Regions from separate parts of the Homo sapiens genome. Here regions 1 and 3 are each reported to be linked to region 2. The links are microRNA targets in miRTarBase. Many come from high-throughput screens and were not tested one by one. Region 2 holds a microRNA gene; each other region holds the end of a gene's coding sequence.
Evidence for each region. The annotated mature microRNA hsa-miR-6831-3p reads UGACUAACUCCCACUCUACAG and lies in region 2 at 930-950, shown strand. An mRNA with a match to its seed (bases 2 to 7 or 8) in the 3' UTR can be bound and repressed. Matches are read on the target gene's strand: a 7mer-m8 pairs with bases 2 to 8, a 7mer-A1 pairs with bases 2 to 7 and ends in A, and an 8mer does both.

Region 1: miRTarBase lists THAP1 as a target of hsa-miR-6831-3p. The part of its 3' UTR that is shown has no 7-base or 8-base seed match.
Region 3: the mRNA of CPPED1 is a reported target of hsa-miR-6831-3p. Seed matches in the 3' UTR shown: 7mer-A1 at 1,397-1,403.

What each region holds. Positions count from the first base shown.
Region 1 is chr8:42,835,072-42,838,427 of GRCh38, forward strand. It overlaps THAP1 (THAP domain containing 1), which reads right to left. Exons shown (of 3, transcript NM_018105.3): 3 at 1,603-3,265. The coding sequence ends at 2,891. Among named protein-coding and RNA genes, the nearest start is that of THAP1, 6.6 kb to the right of the region's middle.
Region 2 is chr5:140,561,621-140,564,620 of GRCh38, reverse strand. MIR6831 (microRNA 6831) reads left to right here and starts at 870; the gene lies at 870-950. APBB3 (amyloid beta precursor protein binding family B member 3) reads left to right here and starts at 23. Exons shown (of 13, transcript NM_133173.3): 1 at 23-424; 2 at 706-869; 3 at 951-1,027; 4 at 1,898-1,958; 5 at 2,122-2,268; 6 at 2,394-2,521; 7 at 2,772-2,777; 8 at 2,920-3,000. The coding sequence starts at 376. RefSeq lists enhancers at 1-197, 806-865 and a silencer at 156-335.
Region 3 is chr16:12,662,242-12,665,597 of GRCh38, forward strand. It overlaps CPPED1 (calcineurin like phosphoesterase domain containing 1), which reads right to left. Exons shown (of 4, transcript NM_018340.3): 4 at 1-2,874. The coding sequence ends at 2,645. Among named protein-coding and RNA genes, the nearest start is that of SNX29-AS3, 53 kb to the left of the region's middle.

The sequences.
Region 1 (3,356 bases), not on the chromosome of region 2:
TTCCCAACACTTTGGGAGGCCAAGGCAGGCTGGTCACCTGAGGTCGGGAGTTCAAGACCAGCCTGGCCAGCATGGAGAAACCCCGTCTCTACTAAAAATACAATATTAGCTGGGCGTGGTGGCGCATGCCTGTAATCCCAGCTACTCGGGAGGCTGAGGCAGGAGAATCCCCTGAACCCGGGAGGCAGACGTTGCAGTGAGCCCAGATAGCGCCATTGCACTCCAGCCTGGGCAACAAGAACGAGACTCCTTCTCCAAAAAAAAAAAAATTGAGTCTTTGTCCCTGTTTATGTCAGACTGTTTACTATGCCTGAACAGAACCTATTTTTACCTAAATGACCTCCTTTTCTTGGCAATGTTATAAACAATAGCCAATTCAGAAATAAGTACCTGCACCTCAAACTTCTGTTTACTATGATAAATTATTTAAATGAAAGCAGTTGGTGTACATGCTGCTTGCTCAGTTCTCTCCAAATGGGGATTTATGTCTGTTATGAAAAGAAAGTAGCTTGAGGTTAAATAATAATGCTAATATGCTAAGTAATTATGATTTCCATTTTTATAATCTTACCTGGATTCTTCATTCTGGGACACACACATAGAATTTGTCTTTTATGTAGAAGAGTACTTAGATTGAAGGTATATACTTTTCTTTTTTTTTTTTTTTGAGATCGGAGTTTCGCTCTTGTTGCCCAGGCTGGAATGCAATGGCACCGCCCTCGCTCACTGCAACCTCTGCCTCCCAGGTTCAAGCGATTCTCCTGCCTCAGCCTCCCAAGTAGCTGGGATCACAAGCATGCGACACCACACCTGACTAATTTTGTATTTTTAGTAGAGACAGGGTTTCTCCATGTTGGTCAGGCTGGACTTGAACTCCTGACCTCAGGTGATCCACCCGCCTTGGCCTCCCAAAGTGCTGGGATTACAGGCATGAGCCACTGTGCCCGGCCGAAGGTATATACTTTTCAAAATATTCAGGAATAAATCTAAATATTCCTGAGTACTTCCAGGAATTGCTAGAAAGATGACATATAAAACCAAACTTCTTGAATACTTTGTAGCTTCGAGTTCCATGAATAATCTGTAAAAGCCTTCTGACTGATCAGCATGAGTTCTAAATGATGTTATCAGACTATGTAACTTCAAGTAATCTTTTTTTTTTTTTTTTTTTTTTTTTGAGACGGGGTCTTGCTTTATTGCCCAGGCTGGAGTGTAGTGGCGCAATCTCAGCTCACTGCAACCTCCACCTCCCGGGTTCAGGCAATTCTCCTGCCTCAGCCTCCCAAGTAGCTGGGACTACAGGCACTCGCCACCATGCCCAGCTAGTTTTTGTATTTTTAGTAGAGACGGGGTTTCACCATATTGGCCAGGCTGGTCTTGAACTCCTGACCTTGTGATCCATCCGCCTCGGCCTCCCAAAGTGCTGGGATTACAGGCGTGAGCCATGGCGCCCCGCCCAACTTCAAGTAATCTTCTAATCATTATTTCTATTTTTGAGATACTGGTTCATAAAACATCAAATATGCATGAATCACAGTGCTATCCACTGGCAGCATGGCAGTGAACTACAATGAAAACCAGTTCTACAAAAGACACTTTGAATGCCATTGTTTCACACCTTTAATACTGTCTTAAAGGTTCTATTGCTCTTCAACGATCTTAGTGTACTTTGAAATATAAAAGTAATAATTATCATTGGAACAGTTATTCTAAATCTAAAAAGATAACTCCCATAGCAATATTTGTTTACTCAGAACATATTTTCACTTCCAATATATGTAAAATTTCTCACAAAGAACAGAACTCACAGTTTGAACAGAAACCTCAGTGTTTAAATCTCCACATTCAGTAAAATAAACGCTACATAGTAGGTTGTTCTGAATATAAATCACGCACTTAACTAAATGGGATATAATTTCTAACTTGTGTTAAAAGTGAAGAAATAATTTTTTATGTGAAGCCTTGTCCCAACTCAGTCAAGTGCAAGATTATCATATGATACAAATCAAACTCTACTAACACAGCACATTTGTCAGAGACTTGAAGGCAGATACATAACTACAGCTGGGGAACTGGATGTCCTTCAGCTAGGGTGTAATGAAAGAAAAAAGCGTATCATAGATCAGGTCCCAGTTTTAATTACTTCATTGATGACAATGCCTTACTTTATTTATTGAAAAATGTTTCTTCCACTGAAAATACACTTCTAATTTTATAATGCAAGACAGTAGGGGAAAAAATAGGAGCCCATGTAAAAAAAAAAAATCCACTCTTAGAATCTGAAGTTATTGATCAGATATGCAATGACTTTTTTCTGCTGTGATGATAATCAAATCTTTTTTCTTAAGTACTGACTTGCCAATTTATCTTTGATAACTGATTCAGAAAGATAAATGAACCTTGTGACTTTACATATGAGAATATGTACATATGTATATATATATTCTAAGAAGTTATGTCCCATGATCTGACCCATACTTCTGATTTAAAATATAACTAAATTCTCTCAATAAAACAGTACTAATTTTAAGTTTTAAACTGAAATCACCCTTTTACCACACTGTTCTCATTCTCTTTACTTTTTATTTTTACATTATTTCTATAAATACTAAAAAAAAACCCCAAAATCCCCAATCTTGAAACCAACTTACATTAGAGGTCTGAGGTTAGTTTATAACTTTTAAAATATTTTGTTAAAATGTAAAAAACCTGAAATTACAAACAAAAAAATTTATAATTTTACAGTATATATAGAATTTTTTTTAAAAAAATATTCTGAACTGTTTTTATATAAGTAATCAAATGTTATTTTTTTAAATGAAACTCCTTTACAGGCTAGAGGAGGATATGTGGTATTGCCCCATTAGAAATCAATACACATTTCATTTTTTTATGCTGGTACTTCAACTATTTCAAAGTAGTCATTTGGTAGAATCACATAACCTCTTTCTGATACGTCGTCTTTCTCTTTCTGGAAGTGAACAACCTCCTTTAATTTTTCAAGCTGCCGTTCTTGCCTTCTGCATCGCTGCTGTGCGGTCTTGAGCTTCTTTCTGAGTTTTTCAACTTGCTGTTCTAGCTGATGAATCCTTTTCCGCTGGTGCATTGTATCCTCCACAGTATAGTTGTGGTCACAGAAAACTGAGAGATTAACAGGGGTCTGAAGAGGCGGCATTAGTAATCCAATAGCAGCATCAACCTGGGAAACAGGAGGCGGTAAAGGAGGTGGGGGAAGCTGTTCCTGTGGCTCCAGAAGATCTTCTTTCTAAAACAAAAATACAAAGTATGTTTGAATTTAGTAACTAAAAACAGTTTAAAAGAATCTGTGGACTGACCAGGCGCAGTGGCTCATGCCT
Region 2 (3,000 bases):
CTCGTGCGCGAGTGCGCGCGGCGCATGTTCGGCGTGTCGGTCTTCAGGCGCCTGATGAGTTCATAGTTGGGCGGTGGTGTCAGCGGTTTCGCTGGCGTTCGTGGGCCTCCCCCGGACCCACACACGGAAACACGCAACCATTCGGGGATCCAGACGCCCGTTTACACGCACCACCCCTGGGCGGGCTGTGCGGCTCAGGCCCTCCCCCGGGACCGGCCCGTGTCCCGCCCCGTGTCCCGCCCCGTATTTGTGCGGCGCCAGCTGGCCCCGCAGCCTGCGGCGCAGAGAGGCTGGGCTTGCAGGCGCAGTAGCTCCAGAGGTCGCGCTGGGCTGAGAGTGCGGGCCGGCAGAGGCTGGCGGGGAGCAGCCGGGGTTATGCTGGGCAAGGATTACATGCTGGCCATCATTCTGGTCAACTGCGATGGTGTGCACGGAGGGGCCCGGTGGGAAGACCAGGAGCTGAGGGAGGACGAGGGAATCCGAAAGGCTACTCTGGGGCTCAAAGACGGTGGGGGATACCTCTCTGTGTAGGGACCAGGGGGCGAATGAACCCGGTCTTTACATGTGATGTCTTCAAGATTGAGGAGCCTGGATCTTCAGCCTAAGAACTGACCCATTTTGGGGATGGAGAGGGGATTATGACAGCATGTTATTCTGAACTCACAAATCATATGCTCCCTCCTCTCTAATCCGGTGTTCCTGTAGATGACTTGTGGGGGGACCACAGTCTGGAGGTGGAGGCTGGCCTGCCTCCTGGCTGGAGGAAGATCCACGATGCTGCAGGTACTTACTACTGGCATGTACCCAGCGGTAGCACCCAGTGGCAGCGCCCAACCTGGGAACTAGGAGATGCAGAGGACCCAGGCACGGTAGGTAGAGTGTGAGGAGGAGGTCTGAGCCCATGTGTGGACCTAGGTCTGCTGTTAAACTGACTAACTCCCACTCTACAGGGAACGGAGGGGATCTGGGGACTGCGGCCCCCCAAAGGGAGATCCTTCTCCAGCCTGGAGAGTTCACTGGACCGGAGGTAACGGGTGGCCCAGGCAAAATGAAAGGCTTGGGGTTCCATGGTGTTCAAAAATGCAGCTGGACCCATGGTCTGCTTTCCAGCCCAGGTTCTGGATTCTGTCACATGTTTTGGGTTCTGTTACGTTCTTGGCTCTGTCCCAGGTTCTTAACTGTCAGTATTTTGAGTTTTATCCCTTGTTCTAAGCTCTTGTTTGTAGCTACATGTTTTTCATATTCTTGGTCCTAACCTATCATGTTCTAGACCTTGGCCATTAAGTCCTCTGTTCTAGGGTCTCTTGTCCCACTTTGGGGTTCTGGTCCACATATTGGACCCTGTTCTATTTTGTGACTTTTATTTTTTATTTTTTGAGATGGAGTCTCACTCTGTCATCCAGGCTGGAGTGCAGTGGCACGATCTTGGCTCACTGCAACCTCCGCCTCCCAGGTTCAAGTCATTCTCCTGCCTCAGCCTCCTGAGTAGCTGAAACTACAGGCACATGCCACCATGCCCAGCTAATGTTTGTATTTTTAGTAGATATGGGGTTTCACCATGTTGGCCAGGATGGTCTCGATATCCTGACCTCATGATCCACCCGTCTCAGCCTCCCAAAGTGTTGGGATTACAGGCGTGAGCCACCACTGCACCTAGCCTTGTGACTTTTATTCTATGTCCTGTGTCTGGGTCCTATGTCCTGAATTTTCCCTCAAATTCTGAGTCACACTTTATGTTACGTTAATATGTCCTGGGCTCTACCCTGCTCTGGTTTTATATTTCTGGTGCTATATTCTGGGTCTTGCCCCTCATCCTGTGCTTATCAAGTTGTCTAGGCCTCACCAGTGTCCCTACTGTAGGAAATGTGGTCCTCTTAACAGCTCTGCTCTGTTTCAGTAACTCTCTGTCCTGGTATGGTGGGGAATCCTACATCCAGAGCATGGAGCCAGGGGCTAAGGTAGTGACTTGGGCCTGAGGGCATTGGGAGGTCCCAAGGGAAAGACAAGGGTGGGATTGGACTGAACAGAGGTGATCAAGGGTGAAGACAGGGAGTATGTATTGTGGCACCTGCCACCCTACTCCATCCTTATTAATTCCTGTCCCTTCCCCCAACCTGTCAGTGCTTTGCAGTCCGCTCTCTGGGCTGGGTAGAGGTACCTGAAGAGGACCTGGCACCGGGGAAGAGCAGTATTGCAGTCAATAACTGTATCCAGCAGCTGGCCCAGACCCGCAGCCGGAGCCAGCCTCCAGATGGTGCCTGGGGTGAGGTGAGTTGGCTGGGCCCTTTAATGGTTTGGGCCCAGGGCCCAGCAGAGGTAGCTGTCCCTGAATTTCCTATTTCTCATGGCAATGACCTTTATCTGAGCTCTGGGCTGACCTCTGTCCTTGGCAGGGCCAGAACATGCTGATGATCCTGAAGAAGGATGCCATGAGCCTAGTGAATCCCCTGGACCACAGTCTGATCCACTGCCAGCCTCTGGTGCACATCCGTGTGTGGGGCGTGGGGAGCTCCAAGGGCCGGTGAGGATGCCTACATCCCCCAAGCAAGAGCTACTTCTCCCTCCCGGCTGCAGGCTGTGATCCCCACTGATGCTGATCCCCAGTACTTGAACCCCTGGACACAGATCCTCTGATGTGGACCCAGGACTGCTTCCCCTGCCTGGTCCAGCCCTGGTTGGGGAGGGTGGGCCCAGCTCAGCAGGGACAGTTTGGGGAGAGTCCGAGAGGCTGGGCTGATTCCCTTCTGTGCTCCCACATGCTTCCGGAACAGTGACAGGTGAGTGAAAACCAGGTATCCTGAGCCCCATCCCTGATGTCCCTACTCCATCCCTGCTATATCCCTAGCCTGACTTTCCAGCCTCCTGCAGGCTCCTGCCTCTAACCAGCTTCTACCCCAGCCCCATCTCTGCCCCTGCTAGGGACTTCGCTTTTGTGGCAAGTGACAAAGATAGCTGTATGCTCAAGTGCCATGTGTTTTGCTGTGATGTCCCTGCCAAGGC
Region 3 (3,356 bases), not on the chromosome of region 2:
ACACTAGTCATGGCCCATCAGAATGATAGATGCTTATCTACAAAAACATTTCCTGACTTCTTGCTGAACCTCTTGCCTCTGGGAAATACTGCTGTTTGCTTACTTAAAAAGTGGTGAGAAATTAATATGATTCTCTCTTCCCTTTTAAAAAATTAAATTTGTATAAATATAAGGCGTACAAGTGCAGTTTTGTTACACGGATATATTGCGAAGTGGTGAAGTCCAGGCTTTTCCTGCAACCAACACCAGAAAAGTGTACACTGTACCCATCAGGTACTTTCTCATCCCTTACCCTCCTCCCACCCTTCTGAGTCTCCAATGTTTGTTCCACACTCTATGTTCATGGGTACACTTTATGTAGCTCCCATTTATGAGTGAGAACATGAAGTATTCGACTTTCTACTTCTAAGTTATTTCACTTAAGATAACAGCCTCCAGTTCCATCCAGGTTGCTGCAAAAGACATGGTTTCATTCTTTTTAGTGGCTGAATAGTATTCCATTATGTATACATACCACATGTTCTTTATCCAATCATCTGTTGATGTGATTCCCTTTTCTTTGCATATTCTTGGGGTACTTTTGAATCAGTTCTTTTAAGTTTTTGGGGAAGGAGATTTGGTTTCATTTTCATTACTTTCAATTATCTCCATTATCCTTCTGCAAACCCATGTGCCACAATTCAGAGCATTGTGCATACGTAAGAACAGAGTGAGAGCTCCTTTTCATTTCCCCCTGGAGGAACCCCCATCCTGGAATCGAAGCCCTCTGTTTATGATCCAAGTGTCACCACATCTCAAGTCTCAATGTGTGTGTGTGTGGTTTTTTTTTTTTTTTTTTGAGACAGAGTCTTGCTCTGTTGCCCAGGCTGGAGTGCAGTGGCATGATCTTGGCTCACTGCAACCTCTGCCTCCTGAGTTCCAGCGATCTCCTGCCTCAGCCTCCCGAGTAGCTGGGATTACAGGTGTGCACCAGCATGCCTGGCTAATTTTTGTATTTTTAGTAGAGATGGAGTTTCACCATGTTGGCCAGGCTGTTCTCAAACTCCTGATCTCAGGTGATCTGCCCGTCTCAGCCTCCCAAAGTGCTGGGATTACAGGCGTAAGCCACTGTGCCTGGCCCAATGTGTGGTTGTTATTAGCTATGCCCTTTACCGAACTCCTTTTCTTGACCTCCTATACCTACACCTGTTGTAAAGAAACAAATACAAAACAGGATTTCAGCAAAACACTAAAAGAAGAGCGTTCTAGTTTTTTAAAAAATTTAATTTTCTTGTGGCACATAACAATGAACTCTGGTGTCACCAGCCTATTGTATAATTAACTTCTCGTCTTTTGTTCCTTATGAATTTACATATTTAATTATCTTTCCATTTAATTTCCCATGGTTTTGCTACGTTGACTAAACTCTGTAATGAGAAAGTCTTTTAATTTAATAGACTTTGCAGGTCATGTGTAACCAGCTTTGGAAATCATTTTAGGATTACTGAGTGCTGTTTCATAATGCTGTATATTTTTCCTGCCAGGATTTGGAGTACCTAGGTTATTTGTCCACCAGAACAATGGCTGTAAAGGAGAAAATTGAGCAGTGGTCAGAAGCTGCTGAGAAGATGCGGTAAAACAGGTTACATAAAAAACAATGCTGGTTTGAAATAACCTATGCGCTTTTGTCAAGGGATTTTGCATTAGTGCATTTAGTCCAAGTCAGGGCCAATTCAGAGGATGTGGCTGAAGGCACCGTTTTGGCCTTTTTTGTTTCTTTTGAGAGCTCTGCATACATTCCCACTTTTCCTGTCAAAGTGGACAAAATGAAGAGTCTCATGAGTGGAGGGGCATTCTGATCCCAAGAGACCACCCATCTGTGGAGTGGCTACACAGCCAGAATGTGGATGTGAACCAACTCAACGTGCTCCCCAGAGACTGAAGAAGCGGCGTTTTAGAGCTTTGGTTTCAGTCTCTTGGAGGAGATTTTCAGAAATGGCCAATTTATGTGCAAAGGTGACTTTTCTAGGCACCCAGGAAGGCAAATTTAAGCTCCGAGCTGTATCAACTGCATTCTGTTCCTATCATCAGAAGTCTCAGAATTGAACAGTAAATGGTGCCTACTTGGCTCCTTGTCAAAATAAGTCTGCATGGCTCTCACAACAAGGGAGACAGCTGTTCGTTCCGCTGGAAAGGAAAGGAGATGAACTTTGTTTTGCCTAGCGTTTTGGGAATCGTGACCACAATTTAATACAATCAGGTGTAGTTTGTTTAAGGAATTATCAAAGATCATACTTGGCTGTCAGATTGGAATTGAGGTCGATAGGCAGACTTTGACCATATGCTAACCAGAATACAATCCAATTCAAAAGTGGAGTTGAGAAACACAGCATTAGGAGAATTTATTCAAACATCCATGCAGAGATAGTCTAATATTTTAAAAACTGATTTCCAGGATCATTCGCTCCATTTTAAAGGAAATGCAGTTCTATTTTGAATATAATTCAGGACAGGGCCCCAGCTCTCTGATTTATGCAAAAGGACATAAATTCACAAACCTGCCTGGGCTATTTTTATATTTCAGCAAGAGGTTGTGTGCAGCTGCTGTTTCTGGCAAAATAAAAAAATAGTGCAAGTGAAAAGTGAACGGGAACGGGAAGGAGCGTCATTTTTTCTTGATCAAATCCATGAGATCGTCTTCTATTCCTTTCTCACTCAGCTCATCTAGACTGTAGTATCGGTGAACAATTTTCTCGGCGGTGACCACCACGACTCGGAGCCCGTGGGGGTCTCTGCCCAGCTGGCATCCAATGGCAGATGACACCACCATGTCGAGGTTCTGGTAGGTACCCCCGGCATTCCTGTGGTAGTGGCCTGAGAACACGACTTTGACACCTGCAGAGAAGGGAAAAAGTCATTAGGGGGCCGAGGACTTCCATTAGGTAACCTAGGGTCTCCAGCATTTTATTCTGTGAACAGTAATATATTAAATATATTATTATACCATCATGTAGAATTATCATATTAAATGTATAATATTATTCTGTATATAATCAACAAATAGAAAGCGTATGTGATGTCCAGAATCTTTGAAAGGATACTTCATATATATAATATATTATTAACATGTTTGTCATAACTTGTACAAAGACGTACTAGGGAAGAAAATGAGAGAAGGAAGATGAAGTGAATGACTTTGAGAAAAGACAAAGGAGACTGAAGAAAACAGCCTGAGTCCTATAGAAATATCCAGATGACAAAAGTTATGTATTTTAAAAATAACATTTATGGCCAGGGATGGTGGCTCATGCCTGTAATCCCAGCACTTTGGGAGGCCAAGATGGGTGGATCACTTGAGGTCAGGAGTTCGAGACCAG